Linked DNA regions of Homo sapiens. The gene in region 1 interacts genetically with each later gene. Each region holds a gene or a part of one and is shown in the gene's direction. Other genes may lie near its edges.

What was found. A genetic interaction does not mean that the proteins touch.
Region 2: changes in PARP1 (region 1) and CYP4F12 together harm fitness less than expected from each alone (positive genetic interaction), as found in Homo sapiens cells (one large-scale study listed by BioGRID).
Region 3: changes in PARP1 (region 1) and LIG1 together harm fitness more than expected from each alone (negative genetic interaction), as found in Homo sapiens cells (one large-scale study listed by BioGRID).
Region 4: changes in PARP1 (region 1) and CAMK2B together harm fitness less than expected from each alone (positive genetic interaction), as found in Homo sapiens cells (one large-scale study listed by BioGRID).

What each region holds. Positions count from the first base shown.
Region 1 is NC_000001.11:226,397,081-226,402,554, reverse strand, and holds part of PARP1 (poly [ADP-ribose] polymerase 1), read left to right. Parts: intron 1-175; coding exon 176-341; intron 342-5,474. UniProt on the Homo sapiens protein: Poly-ADP-ribosyltransferase that mediates poly-ADP-ribosylation of proteins and plays a key role in DNA repair.
Region 2 is NC_000019.10:15,674,948-15,679,586, forward strand, and holds part of CYP4F12 (cytochrome P450 4F12), read left to right. Parts: intron 1-3,313; coding exon 3,314-3,458; intron 3,459-4,639. UniProt on the Homo sapiens protein: A cytochrome P450 monooxygenase involved in the metabolism of endogenous polyunsaturated fatty acids (PUFAs).
Region 3 is NC_000019.10:48,160,345-48,164,983, reverse strand, and holds part of LIG1 (DNA ligase 1), read left to right. Parts: intron 1-2,632; coding exon 2,633-2,722; intron 2,723-3,476; coding exon 3,477-3,612; intron 3,613-4,639.
Region 4 is NC_000007.14:44,242,095-44,246,733, reverse strand, and holds part of CAMK2B (calcium/calmodulin-dependent protein kinase type II subunit beta), read left to right. Parts: intron 1-3,206; coding exon 3,207-3,309; intron 3,310-3,400; coding exon 3,401-3,484; intron 3,485-4,079; coding exon 4,080-4,174; intron 4,175-4,393; coding exon 4,394-4,516; intron 4,517-4,639. UniProt on the Homo sapiens protein: Calcium/calmodulin-dependent protein kinase that functions autonomously after Ca(2+)/calmodulin-binding and autophosphorylation, and is involved in dendritic spine and synapse formation, neuronal plasticity and regulation of sarcoplasmic reticulum Ca(2+) transport in skeletal muscle.

The sequences.
Region 1 (5,474 bases):
CAGCTCTTCATGTGAGAGCGGAGGCTGTCCTCCTTTCACAGATAGGAGAACAAAAGTTTCATGTGCTATCCCACTGCTGGGGCTGGGACTGGGGTCGAGGTCAAGGTCAAGGTCTAGTGGGTCTAAGTCAAAAGTTAACTGCTTACTTACTTCCCTCTGTTTCTCTTCCTTCTAGTCGCCCATGTTTGATGGAAAAGTCCCACACTGGTACCACTTCTCCTGCTTCTGGAAGGTGGGCCACTCCATCCGGCACCCTGACGTTGAGGTGGATGGGTTCTCTGAGCTTCGGTGGGATGACCAGCAGAAAGTCAAGAAGACAGCGGAAGCTGGAGGAGTGACAGGTGTGTACATACTGGGGCAGCATGGGCATTCAGCCCCCACCCTGAAGCTCCCAGGAGGGCCTCGTCTCAGAGAGCAAAGCAAACCTCCCCCAGCTTGCCCTCTCCCACATGTGCAGATCAAGCGTATGGTGCCCATGTTATTTCAGCAACACCTCCTGGACTCAGCATCATCTGTTGCATGATATTTGGTATTTTGTTTTTCCAGGTGCTTGGAATGTAGCCTTTAAAGTTGTTTTGTTTTTAATATACTTTATTTTTGTTCATGGCAAAAGTAAGCAAAGAACAAAGAGTTTCCAGTACCCCCTCCCCCTCCCACCACACAGGCTCTTCCTTGTCAACACCTCCCACCAGAGTAGTACATTTGTTATAATTGAGGAACCTACACTGACACATCATTATTGCCCAGAGTCCAGAAACTCCTGATGCTCTACATTCTATGGGTTTGGACAAATGTATGATGACATGCATCTGCCATTATAGTATCATACAGAGTAGTTTCAGACCTGCACCCTTCTGCAGCCCCCTTAAGATTAAGGAAGAATAGCTCATCTCTGAGAGGGGAATGAGGTAGGAGGTGGGGCTCAGACACCAAACCAAACCGAGGACTAACTAAAGCAGGGACAGGGACGAAGCAGCTTTCCATAAAACACCCACCAGTGTGCCATATCAGTTTACCATTGCCATGGCAATACCCGGAAGTTACCACCCCTTTCTGTGACAACAATCTGATGACCTAAAAGTTACCACCCCGTTTCTTAACATGTCTGCATAGTCTGCCCCTTAATTTGCATATAATTAAAAGTGGGTGTAAATATGACTTCAGAACTGCCTTTGAGCTGCTGCTCTCAGCACAGTGCCTGTGGGGTAGCCCTGCTCTGCAGGAGCAGTCACAGAGCCATAACACTGCTGCCTCAATAAAGCTGCTTTCTTCTACCACGAGCTCGCTCTTAAATGCTTTCCAGAGCGAAGCCAAGGACCCGCCCAGGCCAATCCCCAATTTAGGGCTGGCCTGCCCTGCATCAGTTTCACTGCTCTAAAAATCCCCTGTTTATCCCTCCTAATTCCTGACAACCACTGCTCTTTTTACTGTCTCCACAGTTTTCTCCTTTTATGTCTTCTCCCATGTCTTAGTACAGGTCACGTCAGGTGACATAGCAGAGCAGAAAGCAAAGCTATTAAAAGCTTTATTAGGAGAGGTAATCCTAGGGCAGCAAGAGAGAGGGAGGAAGGGGAGGCAGGAGGGCAAGCACAGTGCCATACGCTGTCAAGCTGGCCATGGCTTCATGAGAAACAGCCAATGGCTTGGTCATGCAGGATGCCCTCACGCAAGTCCTTTGCCACTAAGCTTCAGAAAAGCCCCTCGGAGCAGGAGGAAGGGAGCAGCATTATCCATTGGTTCTTTCTGCCTCTTGTTTCTCATTGGTTTTAGCTCGCTGGAGGTGCTGTGGTTCTCTGCACTTCCAGACTGTGTTCCTGGCCTCTGCACAGTCACGCCCTGCAGCCAGAGCTGCCTCTAGATCTGGAAGTGGCGGGAGGACTCTCAGTCCCTGGTTTTGAAAGAGTTGGCCTGTTGGTGACAGTGCTGTGTTTGTTACTGTGGTGGTCACTACAGGGTGGGTATGCCAGGGTGTGGCCCTTACCCTGAGGCAGTGACAGTGCTAGGGAACAAGGCTGTGGCACCAGCAGCCACTGTCAGGTAGCCCACCCTGGGGATACAGATGAACTACATCCAGTACGTGTAATTTTATGGTTCCTTATTTCTTTTAACATCTAAATGTTTACTCTATTTGAGAGTTATCCCGGTGTGTGCTGATGTGTGGTGTGAGGCGTGACTCCAGTTTTATTTTTTTCCAGATGATGATCTAGTTTCCCTACTTTGTTTTTTTGTTGTTGTTTTTGTTTTTGTTTTGTTTTCGAGATGGAGTCTCACTCTGTTGCCCAGGCTGGAGTGCTGTGGCATGGTCTTGGCTCACTGCCACCTCCGCCTCCCGGGTTCAGGCGATTCTCCTGCCTCAGCCTCCCGAGTAGCGTGGTGCCTGCCACCATGCCCAGCTAATTTTTTGTACTTTGTTTATTGGCTTATTCATCTCCCCCATTGAGAGGTGTCTTGTATCATGCACAAAATCTCTGTATTTTGGGGTCCTTTTAAAAATTTCTGTTCCATTGTCTGTTTAACCTTTTTTTATATGTAAACTTTTTTCGTTGTTGTTGGAGACGGATTCTCGCTCTGTCACCCAAGCTGGGGTGCAGTGGTGTGATCTCGGCTCACCGTAAGCTCCGCCTCCCAGGTTCATGACATTCTTCTGTATGTAGACTTTTTTTCTTATAGCAGTTTTAGGTTCACAGCAAAATTGAGTAAAGTACAGAGTTTCCATATACCCGCTAGCCCTACCCACCCCACACATACACAGACTTTTGTCCACAATCAACATCGCCACCAGAGTGGTCCATGGTTATAGCTGATGAGCTACATTGACACATCGTTATCGGAGTGGTCCATGGTTATAACTGATGAGCCACATTGACACATCGTTATCCCTCGAGGTCTGTAGTTTACATGAGGGCTCACTCTTTGCATTGTACATTCTGTCAGTTTTAACAAACATACATTGACATGCATGTACCTTTATGGTAGCCTCCAGAGTCCTTTCACTGCCTGGGAAATCTCTGTGCTTTGCCTAGTCATTCCTCCCTCCCCTCTAACCTCCAGTAACCACTGATCTTTTTGCTTTCTCCATAGTTTTTCCTTTTCCAGAATATAATATAGTTGGAATCATACAGAAGGTAGCCTTTTCAGATTGGCTTCTCTCACTAGCAATGTGCTCTTAAGATTCCTCCATGTCGAGCCGGGCACGGTGGCTCACATCTGTAATCCCAGCACTTTGGGAGGCCGAGCCCAGCAGATTACGAGGTCAGGAGTTCGAGACCAGCCTGGCCAATATGGTGAAACCCTGTCTCTATTAAAAATACAAAAATTAGCCGGTGTGGTGGTGTGCACCTGTAGTCCCAGCTACTCGGGAGGCCGAGACAGGAGAATTGGTTGTACTGGGAGGCGGAGGTTGCAGTGAGCCGAGATCATGCCACTGCACTCCAGCCTGGCAACAGAGCGAAACTCCATCTCAAAAAAAAAAAAAAAAAAAGATTCCTCCATGTCTTGTCGTATTGATAGCTCATTTCTTTTTATTACTGAATAATATTCCATTGTCTGGATTACCACAGTTTGTTTATTCATTGACCTGCTGAAGGACATCTTGATTGCTTCCAAGTTTTGGTGATTATGAACAAAGCTGCTAGAAACACCCACCATGTGCAGGTTTTTATGGGGACATAAGTTTTCAACTCCTTTGGGTAATCAAGGAGTACAATTGCTGGATCATGTGGTAAGAGTATATTTAGTTTTGTAAGAAACTGCCAAGCTGTCTTTCAAAAAGCTGAATCATTTTCCATTCCCACCAGCAATAGATGAGAGTTCGTATCATTATACATCTTTGCCAGCATTTGGTGTTATCATTGTTTTGGATTTTGGCCATTCCAATAGATATATAGTATTTTATTATTGTTTTAATTTGCATTTCCCTAATACTGTAATTATCTTGAACATCTTCTCATACGTTTATTTACCATCTGTATATCTTTGGTGAAATGTCTTTTGCCTGCCCCTACCCCCACTTTTTTTTTTTTTTTTTAAGACTGTCTTGCTCCGTCGCCCAGGCTAGAGTGCAGTGGTGTGATCACAGTTCGCTGCAGCCTTGACCTCTGTCTCCCACCTCAGCCTCTTGAGTAGCTGGGACTACAGGTGCGCACCACCATGCCTGGCTAATTTTTTTAAATTTTTTGTAGAGACAGGGCCCCACCTTGTTGCCCAGACTGGTCTCAAACTCCTGGTTTTGCTCTTTTTAAAATCACATTGTTTGTTTTCTTACTGTTGAGTCCTAAGAGTTCTTGGTATATTTTGGATAACAGCCCTTTGTCATATGTCTTTTGAAAATATTTTTTCTCAGTGTGTGGCTGGTCTTCCGCAGAGCAGAAGTTCTTAATTTTGTGAAGTCTAGTTAATCAGTTACTTCTTTAGTGGATTGGGCTTTTGGTGTTTGTAAAAAGTCATCACCAGACCCAAGGTCATATAGATTTTCTTCTAGAAGTTTAACAGTTTTGTGTCTTACATTTAGGTCTGTTATCCATTTTGGTTACTTTTTGTGAAGGGTGTAAGGTCTGTGTCTAGATTCCTTTATTTTTTTTCTTTTTTTTTTTTCGCATGTGGATGTCCAGTTGTTACAGCTCCGTTTGTTGAAAAGACTATCTTTTCTCCATTTTTGCCTTTACTTTTTTGTCAAAGATCAGTGGACTGTGCTTGTGTGGCTCTGTTTCTGGGCTCCCTGTTCTGTCCCACTGATCTACGTATCCTTTTGCCAGTACCACACTGTGTTGACTGCTGTGGCTTCATAGTAAGTCTTTAGGTTGGGTAGTGTCAGTCCTCCAACCTTGTTACTGTCATGGCAGAAGGCAGAGGAGAAGCCGGCAGTTGACATGGCCGGAGCAGGAGGAAGAGAGTGAAAGGGGAGGTGCTACACATTTTTCAACAACCAGATCTCAGGAGAACTCACAAGTATCATGACACAGCACCAAGGGAGAAATCTGTCCCGGTGATCCAGTGACCTCCCACCAGGCCCCACCTCCAACATTCGGGATTATAATTTGATAGGAGATTTAGTGGGGACACAGATCCAAACCATATCACTGTCTGCCCTTGCAGCAGCTGGTCCTTGCAGCTGTTGGTATGTCTGACTAGCTGCTTACTGCAAACAGGTTAGTAACGGCTCAGAATTGGGAATTTTAAAAAGTAAATAAATTTGCCAAGAAAGGGTTCAGAGGGTGAGTATGTCAGATTTAACAGAGGACAGCTCTCATTCTGTTGCCTAGGCTGGAATGTACCGGCATGATCTTAGCTCACTGCAGTTTCTAACTCCTGGGCTCAAGCAATCCTCCCACGTCAGCCTCTGGAGAAGCTAGGACTACAGTTGCCCAACTAATTTTTTAACTTTTTTTTTTTTTTTTTTTTTAAGATAGAGACAGAGTCTCACTGTGTTGCCCAAGGGATCTTGCTTGGCAAGACCCCAGGCTGGTCTCAAACTC
Region 2 (4,639 bases), on another chromosome or scaffold:
CTGCTCCCTGCATGGCCCATTTGCTTGTATCTGCCCATCTCTGGGCTGCTGCTTTCCCGCAGGAATTATCTCTGACTTCCTTCCCCACGGAGGGACACAGCTGGACCAGAAGAGAAGTGCAGGCAGTCTCCCACACCCTCTCCTTCCAGGGACAATGTGCTCTTCCCCAGTAAGATGTCCCAGTGAGCCCTGTAGCCCAACCTGGATATAATTTGGCCACTCCCTTCCCCTTTCAGAAGCCGTCCTTGGTACTCCCAAACCTTTCCCTCCGACTGGGACCGGCCCTCCCCTTTGGGGGATGTGGCCTCTGTCTGCTCACTTACAAAAGGCAGGATTGATCGGTGTGTCCACAGGTGCACAGGAGGCACTAGCACAGAACCTGGCATAAGTGAGGCTCTCCTAGGTGGGAGCTGCCATCCTGATGGACATTAGAGTCACCTCTGCTCCCCTGGAGGCTGCTGAGAATGGAGGGCCCTCAGGACGCAGGCCCTTTGTCTGTGGGAGGAACCAGTGCCCATGTGGACCAACCAGGACACAAAAGGATATGGCAACCAGCTCTAGGGATATGTCCTGAGGCCACACTGCTGCCCACAAACCTCCTTCCATGGGGACCTTCCCATATAGCAATCCCCAGATTGAAATCAATCCAGGATGAGAAAACACATCCTCTTGAGCAGACAGCTTGTCTTCTCTCTCTGCTTTGGTATTTACCCTTGGATCTTGGGGACAGCTCCAAGAGAGAAGGAGCAGAAGTCAGCAGAAACCCACTGCAGCTGCTGAGAATCCAGACACGCTGCTCACTGCAGAGGCTGCACCACATCCGGTGGCTGTGGGGGGACTTGCTGTGGCTTCATCTAGGGAGGTGCATTAGTCAGGGTTCTCCCTAGAAACGGAATCTCCTTAGAAACAGATAGGGTGTTTCTTCTTATCTCTAATGCATGTATGTATGGAGACAGAAAGAGATAGAGAGATAAGAATTTATTATGGGAATTGGATAATGTGATGATGGAGGCCAAGAAGTCCCATGATATATCATCTGCAAGCCAGAAACCAGGGACACTGGTGGTGTAAATTCAGCCTGAGTCCAGAAAGGCCTGAGTCCCTGGAGTTCTGAGGGCAGGAGAAGACGGATATCCCAGCAGCAGAAGAGAGAGCAAGTTCTTCCTTTCCTCTGCCTTTTGTCCTGTTCATGCCCTCAATGGATTGGATGGGGTCTGGCGTCTCAGGGTGGGTGGACTTCCAGAGGGGTGGGACTTCCAGTAGGGGTTCAGGGAGCTGTGTATTGATGGTGGCTGGGGTCTGGGAACCCAGAGAACCAAGGGAGACGGCTCACTCATTCCTCTCCTCACTTACTCATTCCTGTGCCCATTCACTCATTCCTCTCCTCACTCACTCATTCTAATACCAACTCACTCATTCCTCTCCTCACTCACTCATTCCTCTCCTCACTCACTCATTCCTGTGCCCATTCACTCATTCCTCTCCTCACTCACTCATTCCTCTCCTCATTCAGTCATTCCTGTCCTCACTCACTCATTCCTTTTCTCACTCATTCATTCCTCTCCTCACCCACTCATTCCTCTGCCCACTCACTCATTCATATCCTCACTCACTCATTCCTCTACCCACACTCATTCCTCTCCTCACTAATTCCAATACCAACTCACTCATTCCTCTCCTCACTTACTCATTCCTCTATCCATTCACTCATTCCTCTCCTCACTCACTCATTCCTCTGCTCACTTAGTCATTCCTCTCCTCACTCAACTCATTCCTCACTCACTCATTCCTCTCCTCACTCACTCATTCCCCTCCTCACTCACTCATTTCTCTCCTCACTCATTCATTCCTTTACCCACTCACTCATTCCTCTACCCACTCACTCATTCCTCTCCTCACTCATTCCCTTCCTCCCATTCCTTTACCCACTCACTCATTCCTCTCCTCACTCACTCATTCCTCTCCTCACTTACTCATTCCTCTCCCCACTCACTCATTCCTCTCCTCACTCACTCATTCCTGTGCCCATTCACTCATTCCTCTCCTCACTCACTCATTCCAATACCAACTCACTCATTCCTCTCCTCACTCACTCATTCCTCCCCTCATTCAGTCATTCCTGTCCTCACTCACTCATTCCTCTCCTCACTCACTCATTCCTCTGCTCACTCACTCATTCATATCCTCACTCACTCATTCCTCTACCCACACTCATTCCTCTCCTCACTAATTCCAATACCAACTCACTCATTCCTCTCCTCACTTACTCATTCCTCTACCCATTCACTCATTCCTCTCCTCACTCACTCATTCCTCTGCTCACTTAGTCATTCCTCTCCTCACTCAACTCATTCCTCTGCTCACTTAGTCATTCCTCTCCTCACTCAACTCATTCCTCACTCACTCATTCCTGTCCTCACTCACTCATTCCTCTGCTCACTCTCTCATTCCCCTCCTCACTCACTCATTTCTCTCCTCACTCATTCATTCCTTTACCCACTCACTCATTCCTCTACCCACTCACTCATTCCTCTCCTCACTCATTCCCCTCCTCCCATTCCTTTACCCACTCACTCATTCCTCTCCTCACTCGCTCATTCCTCTCCTCACTCACTCGTTCCTCTCCTCACTCGCTCATTCCTCTCCTCACTCACTCGTTCCTCTCCTCACTCACTCATTCCTCTCCTCACTTACTCATTCCTCTCCTCACTCACTCATTCCTCTCCTCACTCACTCATTCCTCTCCTCCCTCACTTATTCCTCTACCCACACACTCATTCCTCTCCTCACTCACTCATTCCTCTACCCATGCACTCATTCTTCTCCTCACTCATTCCTTCCTCTCCTCACTCACTCATTCTTCTGCTCGCTCACTCACTCATTCCTCTGCTCACTCTTATTCTTCTCCTCACTCATTCCTCTCCTCACTCACTCATTCCTCTCCTCACTCACTCATTCCTCTACCCATGCACTCATTCCTCTCCTTACTCACTCATTCCTCTCCTCACTCACTCATTCCTCTCCTCACTCACTCATTCCTCTCCTCACTCACTCATTCCTCTCCTCACTCACTCCTTCCTCTCCACACTCACTCATTCCTCTCCTCACTCACTCATTCCTTTCCTCACTCACTCATTCCTCTGCACTACTATTTCCATCCTGTTTACCTTCAAATGCTAATCTCTTCTCAAACACCCTCACAGACACACACAGCAATAATGTTTGACTGGCTATCTGGGCATCCCTTAGCCCAGTCTAGTGGACACCTAAAATTAACCATCACAGGAAGTGACAGCCCTTGACTTGCTTTCAGATCACTCCTACAGAGGAGGGCTTGAAGAACTCGACCCAGATGTCGGCCACCTATTCCCAGGGCTTTACGGTATGGCTGGGTCCCATCATCCCCTTCATCGTTTTATGCCACCCTGACACCATCCGGTCTATCACCAATGCCTCAGGTACCCATGCAGAGCTTGTGGTGGTGGGTGCCAGACCAAGCTTCTGTGTGGTCTCTGCAGTACCCACGTCCCTCCTTGAGTACTCGTGCCCCTCATTGAGACTTCCTTCTCAATGTCTTCTCCCTCCATTGCCATCTGCTCCCTGTCTTGGTGTTCTGGGCACCACTGGGGCTCCAAGAGGCCTCAATTCAGGGCCCTTTCTGGAAGGAACCCCCATGCTTAAGGACACGGGTCTAGACAGAGACATTTCCAGCCTCATAGGGTCAGGAATGGGCAAGAGAGAGATGGGTATGACAACACAGAGAACTGGGTGTCTGCTGGGGCAGGCTGGAATGTTTCCTGGAGGAAGAGTTGTTGGAGCTATGTCTAGACCAATAAGTAGGATTTTTTAAGTGTGGGGCAGGATGATGCAGTGGGCATCATTGGTATTTGGGGTCCCAGCCAGTCCTTGCACCAGCCTTGCCCATCCCTCAGTCCAAAGCGGTAGGAGGATTTGTGGCTGGTGGAGAATCTGGGCTGCTATTTATGTGACATCCACCTATGATGGGTCAGTTCCTTCTACCTCATCCTATCACTCATCCACCCTAAGTTTCCTGCTCTCCTCCTATGGGCTTCAGGATTCTCCAATAGGAGAACCCACACCAGCTGCTTGACCTCCCCTTGCTCTCTGCTCTTCTCATCCTTGGACACACCAGGCTGAGCTAGGGAAGTGGCAGCATCCCACAAAATCTATGGCTCTGACCCCCAAATCCTTAGTGACTCTGTGCAGGTCACCAGCTCTCTGGCTGCTGAGGTCTCTTTCAGTTGTGAGTGATGGAAACTCAACTTCGTGTGCTCTAAGCAAATAAAGAGAGTCAAAGGAGTGTAAATTTCAGGGAGGGTGGTCTTCAGGCATGGCTGAATCCAGGTGTCAATGAACATTATCAGGGATCTGTCTCCTTTTCTTAATTTCACCATTTCTCTGCATCACTTTTTCTTTTAAGGCAGCCGTTCTCTTATCTGTCAACCATGGGTCCTAGCAGCTCAGTTCTTGTCCGAAAGCTCACCTTACCCCCAGGGGTCCCATAAATAGCCGCCTATAGTTTCAATATTATACCTGGTTATATCTTTTCTGTTTAACCTGGGATCATATGGAGAAGTCATCATGTGTGTGGCTCAGCTGTGGTCGAGGACACTTGGGG
Region 3 (4,639 bases), on another chromosome or scaffold:
CGGCCAGTGTCTGGAGATATTTTTGGTTGTTACAACCTAGGGACAGAGGGTTTGCCATTGGCATCTAGTGGCTAAAAGCCAGGCATGCTGCTAAACATCCTTCAATTCATAGGACAGCCCCCCCAACAACACAGAACCATCAGGCCCAACATGTCAATAGTGTCTAGGTTGAGAAACCTCGTGTTAATGCAGTCCGGCTTCAGGAAGACAAGAAAGGGCATGACTTGACTTATATCATTGAAACCTGCTGGAGTAAACAGCCTCAGGCTTGGTTCGATCCAGTTGCCAAAACTTCCTCCCTGGGAATCTGTCTCTCTCCATTGTTCAGCTCTACTGTCCTTGAGGTTGTCCTCACCCTCAGGCGGGCTCTCCCCTCTTAGCGGTCCCCTTGGAAAGAGGGTGTTAGAGCCCAGTTTCACTGGCCCAGCCTGGGCCACATACCTATCCCTGAACCAGCCACAGGGATGCAGCCTGGATCACGTGTCCACCCCTGGTCACAGGCAAAAGGGCCAGCCCACTCAAATCGTGTGTACTGAGAGAATGTGGGGTAAGAAGCATCCCAAGAGGAAAACGGAGGGGCTGTTACCAGGAGGAAAAAATGGATGGTAGAGAGACCCAGACAAGGGCATCCATCCCAGAAACCTGGGCGGTAGTGGCTTACACAAATGCTGGGTTCCGTTTTTCTCCCGTGATGAGGAATCTGGGGATTGTCTCTCCAGGGCTGATGGTGCCTTCGATTGCTTTCTGTCCACTGGCTTTTGCATGATTTTTCCTTTTCTTTTTGAAGATTAAATAAACCTCTTATTCTGGAATAATTTTAGAGGTACAGGAAAGTTGCAAAGACAGTACAGAGAGGTCCTGTATACCCTTGGCCAGTTTCCATTGTCAATATCATACATTACTATGATCCGTTTCTCACCACTGAGATACTAATGTCAGTACATTACTCTTAACTGAACTCCATACTTTATTATTCAGATTTCACCAGATTTTTTTTTTAATGTTCACGCCTTCCAACATTTTTTTTTTTTTTTTTTTTGAGACAGAGTCTTGCTCTGTCGCCCAGGCTGGAGTGCAGTGGCGCGATCTTGGCTCACTGTAAGCTCTGCCTCCCAGGTTCAGGCCATTCCCCTGCCTCAGCCTCCTGAGTAGCTGGGACTACAGGCGCCTGCCACCACACCCAGCTAATTTTTTTTGTATTTTTAGTAGAAGCAGGGTTTCACCGTGTTAGCCAGGATGGTCTTGATCTCCTGACCTCGTGATCCGCCCACCTCGGCCTCCCAAAGTGTTGGGATTACAGGTGTGAGCCACCATGCCAGGCCCCAACATTTTATATTTAGTTGTTTGCTTAATATTTCTGCCCTTCACCAGAGTGTTAGCTTCTTGAAGGCAGGAACTTCGTGTGTCTGGGTCACTGCCAAACCCCTCAGGCCCAGAACAGGCCCTGGCACATAATAAGTGCTTAGGTAGGCCGGGCGCAGTGGCTCACACCTGTAATCCCAGCACTTTGGGAGGCAGGAGGATCACCTGAGATCAGGAGTTCGAGACCAGCCTGACCAACATGGTGAAACCCCTTCTCTACTAAATGAAAAAAATTAGCCGGGCGTGGTGGCGGCCACCTGTAATCTCAGCTACTCAGGAGGCTGAGGCAGGAGAAACACTTGAAACTGGGAGGCCGAGGTTGCAGTGAGCCGAGATTGCACCATTGCACTCCACCCTTGGGCAACAAGAGTGAAAACTCCATCTCAAAAAAAAAAATTTTTTTAGGCTGGGCGCGGGGGCACATGCCTGTAATCCCAACACTTTGGGAGGCCAGGGTGGGTGGATCACCTAAGGTCAGGAGTTTGAGACTGGCCTGGCCAACATGGAGAAAACCCGTGTCTACCAAAAATACAAAAAAAATTAGCTGGGCGTTGTGGTGGGCACCTGTAATCCCAGCTACTCGGGAGGCTGAGGCAGGAGAATCGCTTGAACCTGGGAGGCAGAAGTTGCAGTGAGCCGAGATCACACCATTGCACTCTAGCCTGGGCAACAGAGCGAGAGTCTGTCTAAAAAAAAAAGATTTAAAAAGTGCATAGTTAATATTTGTTGAATAAAACTTGGGATGTATCATATCTTGCAGGTGCGTTAGGGCAGAAAAATTAGTGTTGCCTCCTTTGTCTGAGTCTGAGTTTCCTTATCAGTTAAGTTAAAGGGCTTATTTGAAATTCTCTGTTATGTGCTGAGATGGAAATGGTGTTAGAAGTTATAGGATGCGGCCGGGCGCGGTGGCTTATGCCTGTAATCCCAGCACATTGGGAGGCCAAGCAGATCACAAGGTCAGGAGATCGAGACCATCCTGGCTAACACGGTGATACCCCATCTCTACTAAAAATACAAAAAATTAGCTGGGCATGGTGGCGGGTGCCTGTAGTTCCAGCTACTTGGGAGGCTGAGGCAGGAGAATGGCATGCACCCAGGAGGCGGAGCTTGCAGTGAGCTGAGATTGCGCCATTGCACTCCAGCCTGGGCTACAGAGCGAGACTCTGTCTCAAAAAAAAAAAAAAAAAAGGAAGTTATAGGATACAGCATAGATAGGCAGGGTATTGGTGCTGTTATTCTCCTTTTTTTACCCCCTTTTATGCTCCTCTAGGTCATTTTTCCACCCCAAGAAAGAGGGTAAAGCAAAGAAGCCTGAGAAGGAGGCATCCAATAGCAGCAGAGAGACGGAGCCCCCTCCAAAGTATGTCACAGGGCTGGGATATGGTGAATTTTTTCCTTTAGCAGTCAGGATTGTCTTGGTTGCAAGTGTTCAAACCTAATGCAAAATGTCTTGGGGCCCAAAAAACTTTTTCAGCCAGGTGGCCAGAAGTCCAAGAGCAAGAGCAGCTGCAGGCACAGCTGGATCCAGGGCCTCGGAGTTGTCTGTACGTCTCTGTTTCTGCAGGTCTTGGCCTCGTTCTAGAACCAGACATTCTCCATAATGCAGAGAAGCTGGCCGCTGGCCACTGGCCACGTCTTGATGCTGTCTCATCTAAGTAGAAGACAACAGTACTCTTTTTTTTTTGAAATGGAGTCTCACTCTCACCCAGGCTGGAGTGCAATGGTGTGATCTCGGCCCACTGCACTCCAGCCTGGGCGACAGAGCAAGATTCCATCTCAAAAAAAAAAAAAAAAAGGCATCCCAATAGATGCTGGAGACCAATGGCAACCTTAGGCAGGGACTCCATTTGCTCCTCAGCATCACCCATCACAGGGCAGGCACTCTGGAGACTTCCAGAGATGTGTGATGGGTGGGTGAGTGGATGAGTGGGCGGGTGGATTAATGCACTGATGGATGAAATGATGAGATTTGCTGAGGAGACAACCAGAAAATGTTCATTGGATGCTTGAAAGGAAGGGAAGGAAACAGCAAAGAAACCAAAGTGTTTGCGGGCAGTGCCCCCACTCTGCCTGCTGTAGTCGCCCCTTTACACCCCCATTTCCCCACCTTCCAGGGCGGCACTGAAGGAGTGGAATGGAGTGGTGTCCGAGAGTGACTCTCCGGTGAAGAGGCCAGGGAGGAAGGCGGCCCGGGTCCTGGGCAGCGAAGGGGAAGAGGAGGATGAAGCCCTTAGCCCTGCTAAAGGCCAGGTAGGTCCCCATCACCCTGCCCATTTTTACCAGAAGAAACTAATTCCCATTAACCTTTGGAACAGAGTGCAGCAGCTGTTCAGGAGAATTCTGGAGAAATTGCCCGGGAGAGGTAGATGTGTTTCCTGGTTGTGTCGGGGGCAGACACAACCTGGTCCTAATTGCCCCTGCCCTAGGACCTCGGGTGGGCTCCTTCACCACGTTAGGTCTTGGATGCCTCAACTGTAACATGCAGCTCCTGGTAACACCTTCCTCATAGGGTGACTGGGAAGATGAAATGAGTCGATTTACATACAGATCTGAGAATAATGCCTGATGGTAAAACAAGGGCTCAAGGCCCAGCACAATGGCTTACGTCTGTAATCCCAGCACGTTGGGAGGCCAACGTGGGAGGATCACTTGAGGCCAGGAGTTCGAGACCAGGCTGGGCAACATAGCGAGACCCCATCTCTACAAAAAAATGTTTTAAAAATTAGCCAGGTGTGGTGGTGCATGCCTGTGGTGCTATCTCCTTGAGAGGCTGAGGCAGGAGGATCGCTTGAGCCCGGGTGTTCAAGGCTGCAGTGAACTGTGATTGTACCACTGTACTCCAGCCGGGGTGACAGAGCAAGACCTTGCTTCAAAAAAAAAAAAGCAAAAAAATAAGGGTTCAAAAGTATATCTAGCCTCTCCTGTGGTCAGAGGGCTTTTTAACTTCTCCAAATACATTGGACCACTCTCTTCCCCTGTTTAAGTCATTTAATGCTTGTTCATTGCTTTGTGGATGATGTCCAAAGCGTGGTGCTGCTTATTCTGTCAGTGGTGAGGTCAGGTCCTGTGACTCCCTGCCCAAACCCCCTGGTATTACCACCACAGGCCAAAGCCAGGCCTTGTGGAAACCTCCCAGGCCCCTCCTGCTGCTCCTCTCTTCCCCCGCCCATCACATCTGCAGCCGCATCCACAGCTCCTCCTCAGCTCGCTCCATCCTGGCTTCCCACACCCACCAGGTGCACTTCCACCTCTGGGCCACTACCTTCTTTCCCAGCCT
Region 4 (4,639 bases), on another chromosome or scaffold:
ACATGTGTGTATACATGCTTGTGTGTGCATCTTGCACCTGTGCAGGGATGTGCATGTATGTGCACACTTAGAGGTGTGAGTGCATATGTCTGCATGAGTGGTGGCGTGTCTGTGTGCCTGTGTGCATGTGTGTATACATATGGCATGTGTGCATGCACGTGTGTGGGGACTGTGCATGCATGAGTATGCAAGTGTGTACAAGTGTGTACATGTGTGGGCATGTTCATGCGCATGCATATGTGAATGTGTACATGTGGGTACATGTGTGCGTGTATGCATGTGTGTGTGTGTCTGTGTGGGCATGTGTGTACATGTGCATGTGTGTGCACTTGTGTGTTGGAGGGGTGTCTGCACATGGCCCTCCCTACCCCTCCGGACCTCCAGGGCTGGGAGGGGTTAGTCTTCAGAAATCAGCCTATTACACCGCACTCCAGCCTGGGCAATAGAGAAATCAGCTAGTAACAAATGTCCACTCAGGGTCTAACTGTGAGCCCCCACCAAGACTCCACTGTGGCAGATGAGGACACAGGTGACAGGGCTGACGCCGCTGGGAGCAGAGTGGTGAGAGCAGGACTCGCCAGGGTCTGCCAAGTCCTCCCAGCCCTTTCCTCAAGTCTCTGCTGCCCCCAGCTCAGGTCTGGGCAAAGCAGTTCTAGGCTGTGTTCGGAAGAAGGTTGGTCACCCCCCAGGGCACAGGGTGGCCTCTCAGAAGCTTAGCTGTCTCTCTGCTCCTTCCTCTCTCCCTTCCTTCCTCCCTTTCCTTCCTTCCAATCTCCTTTCCTCCTTCTTCAACCCCACCTTCCCCAAGGCTTGGTTCAGCCTGCTGCTTCTCTGTAGACAGGCAAGCAGTGCAGACCCTGGGGCCATCACCCTGATGGCATTTTTAAGACCAACCTCCCCATTGGTTTTCATGCTGAATGGGGGTCACACCTTTCCTTAGGCCATCGATGATCTTTGTGCTGCTCTGGGGAGAGTGTCACACCAAGAGCAGATCCGGGACCCTCTCCTATACCCTTTACACGCCACCGTACCCCCTGTTCCCTCTCATCTCTGCATCCCAAGCATGTCCTGCTTTGTCTCACCTGAGTCAGCCTCACTCAGGCGCCTCTGGGAGGAGGGGGCCCCCAGGTGCTCCCCTCGGGGCCACGTGGGTTGGTGCTAGGACTCAGTGGCTCTCCTGTGAGGGGCCACAGACATTGTGTTACCAGACCCCATGATTTATCTGGTTAACTCTGGAGCCAAGGCATAGAAGTAGAGGTCAGTGGTACCTCCTCCCCAATTTGGGGGACAAACAGAATTCTTGCTGTCTCAACCTCCTGTTGAGGGGGACAGGATGTCCTTTTCTCCTGGACAGAAATCCACCATCTTGATCGTGACAGCCCAGGAAGCAGCAGAGTAGTGGGGTTGCTCTCACCCCACTGGGGAGGGTGGTAGAGAGCAGAGGGCAGTTGATGTCATCCCAGGGAACTGCAAAAGAGCCAGGGTGGGGGCATCACTGGGTGGCCTAGCAGGGGTGGGCACAGCCTGAGAGCTACCCTGGAGCCTCCAGGCCTTCTTGCCCAGTGCTTCCTACGGTCCATGTTCACTTAACGCTCCTTCTCTTCGGAAGAACTGCTGGTCTGTTTCCTCTGGGGAGGGGGGACATGCAGCAAGTCTGCTCTGGGCTGGGTGGAGAAATGCAGCCCCTGACCCCTCCTCTGTCCAACTTCTCCATGTAGCTGCACGGGGAGCTTGGGGCCTCCACCCACTCACGTTGGCAAAATCACCATGTCCAGTGGCCTGTGGATTGGTGCTCGGTGGACACGGATGCGTGTGCCCCAGCAGGCTGGGACCCCCAAGGTGACGAGGAGGTGGAGGTGGGGGACAGAAGCCCCCAATGCTGCCTTGTCAAGGGGGCACACGGCCTCATCCCGCCTGCTCAGTAGGGCGTGGCTGGAGCTTTCGAGGAAGCTCTGGGTTTCTGCTGAGGGGCGCTCACAGCTCGGGGCTGTGGCAGTCTTTCCACATGGGGATAGCATATGTCATTCATTCTGGGGGTCACTTTTTCACATTTCAAGATCTCTGAGGTTTACAACCAGTGTTAAAAGTGGGTGGAGTGGTCTGTTTTGTCTCTTTGGGCGGCTCATCAAGCGGCAGTGTGATCCCGAGGGTAGTGCATCAGATGGAAGCAGTGCCAGGACAGCGGGGTACTCACCAGGGCAAAGGGGTGGCCTGGGAGGCTGGCCAAGGGACCCGAGGGCCCCAGGGAGCCCCCTGCTGGTCAGGGACAAGGAAGGCCTGCAGCCAAGAGACCCCACCGCTGGGAGATGGTGAGGCTGATGGGTAGGCCAGAGCCCGATGGGGTTTGAAAGCTGGGACAGGAAGGTCCCATGGGATGCAGTGGCCCTGGGACCCCCTCAGGCCCTCAGTGCCAAGTGCCCCCAGGCCTCCTTGGCCGCTGCTGCAAGATAGGGAGCAGATGTCCTTCTGGCTTGAGCAAGGGCACTGCTCTCTGTGTCAGGGCCTGAGTAACCCCCCAACCTGTGGATACCCAGCGGGCAGGGGGTCATTGCAGGGGCCTCCTTCCTGCCCCATGTAGTGGGGATGACCAGAGCCAGGGGGACTTGGTGGGTGGATGTCCTGGGCTGCCCCTAGTGCTGAGGGCCCTGGGCGTTTCTCCTTGCCCTTTGGGGGTCACCATCTCAGCAGGAAATACCTGAACTTCCCCTCAAGCAGCCCCCAACATCCCAGGTCTCTGAGGAGTGAGAAACAGGGAGGGAAGGGAGGGCCATTGCAGCCTCTCAGCCAGTGGGAGTCCGAGGGCCATGGGAGCCCCCAGCCACTGCACAGTCTGCCCCAGGGCTGTGGGGAACATTTAGTTTGCTTGTAAGGATGAGCTTGAGGTTTTGGTCCAACTAGCCCCCAGGTCGCCCTTCCAGGTTATGGGGATCCAAGCTCAGGCTGAGAGCCAAGTTTCCTCTGAAAGGCCAGAGCTGCTGTGTCTCTGTCCCCAGGGGCAGAGGGGCTGTGGGGTTGCAGGCTCAGCGTCTGGGACTCTGGGGTGAAGGCTCAGCCATGCCCTGCAGACACCATGGGGCAGGGCTCAGACCTGTGCACCTGTCTCTTGCAAACCACTGTTTTCTCTGTTTTGTAACCCCCCACCCAACCCCACATAACACCTCTGGGTTTAAACAACATGCACCCTTGTGCCGGTCACCTCCCTGCAGCCGGAGAACCTGCTTCTGGCCAGCAAGTGCAAAGGGGCTGCAGTGAAGCTGGCAGACTTCGGCCTAGCTATCGAGGTGCAGGGGGACCAGCAGGCATGGTTTGGTGAGTGCCAGGGGCAGGGTGTGTTGGCTGGCAGTTGGCAGGGCAGGAGGTGATGCTGACAGCCCCTTGTGGCCTCTTCCCCTCTCTCTAGGTTTCGCTGGCACACCAGGCTACCTGTCCCCTGAGGTCCTTCGCAAAGAGGCGTATGGCAAGCCTGTGGACATCTGGGCATGTGGTGAGGCCTGGCCTGAGTTGGTGCGGGGCAGGGCCTCGGGTGTTTCAGGACTTCCCACCTACATCCTGGAGTGTGCAGTGGCCAGCACGTCTTGCTCTCATCTGGGTTTATCTGTGTCAGACCTGCCCTTGAGCTGCCCTGGCAGGGGTCTGCCCACACAGCCAAGAGCCCCCTTTCCACCCAGATTAGAATTGCTCACATGAACCTGGCGCACCCCAGTGCTCGCCTGCGCTCAGCAGAGGTCTGGTCCAGAAGTGTGGTGGGTGGATGGGAGTGGAGAAGAGAGGTCAGGGGCTGTTGGGCCATGGGCAGGGCCACCTCCTTGGGTAGGGGTCTCCTCCCACAGAGGTGGGGAGCAGCAGAGGGGCTTGACATCACCCTCATCCCTGTGATAGTGTGGGTGTGGGGCAGAGGTCAGGGGGCCGGCTGTGCCCTTCTACCCCAGTGTCTGCTGCACAGGTGGGGGCAAAGGAATGCTGAGGACCCCAATGCCCTCCCAGGGCCACAGGAGCTAGGCAGTGAGGGTGCAGGGCATGGGCTTCATGGACGGTGGCACCCTGCAAGTGGCTGCGGTGCTCACAGGCCCCATCCGCAGGGGTGATCCTGTACATCCTGCTCGTGGGCTACCCACCCTTCTGGGACGAGGACCAGCACAAGCTGTACCAGCAGATCAAGGCTGGTGCCTATGACGTGAGTGCACCAGCCCCTCTCTGATGAGCTCCCTTCCTCCAGGTGTGGCCGGGTGAGGGCAGCGTGGGAAGAGGCTAGGAGTGGGGTGAAGCCACCTGTGGCCAGGTCCTGGGTCCTGCTCTCCCAGATTCGTGGCTGGAGATGAAGCCCCTTGGAGAATTCTTGCCCCTGCCTGAGAGGGAGCTTCAGGCCCGGCCGGGGCGCTGTTTCCTTCTGCAGTTCCCGTCCCCTGAGTGGGACACCGTCACTCCTGAAGCCAAAAACCTCATCAACCAGATGCTGACCATCAACCCTGCCAAGCGCATCACAGCCCATGAGGCCCTGAAGCACCCGTGGGTCTGCGTGAGTCGCCCTTGGTGCCCATGGTGGGGAGGGGGCTCCTGGTGGAGATGGCCTCAGACCACTCCCCTGGCAAGGACCCCAAGAGGGTCCTGTTCCTGACATCCAAGAGCTCCCTTGGGTCCC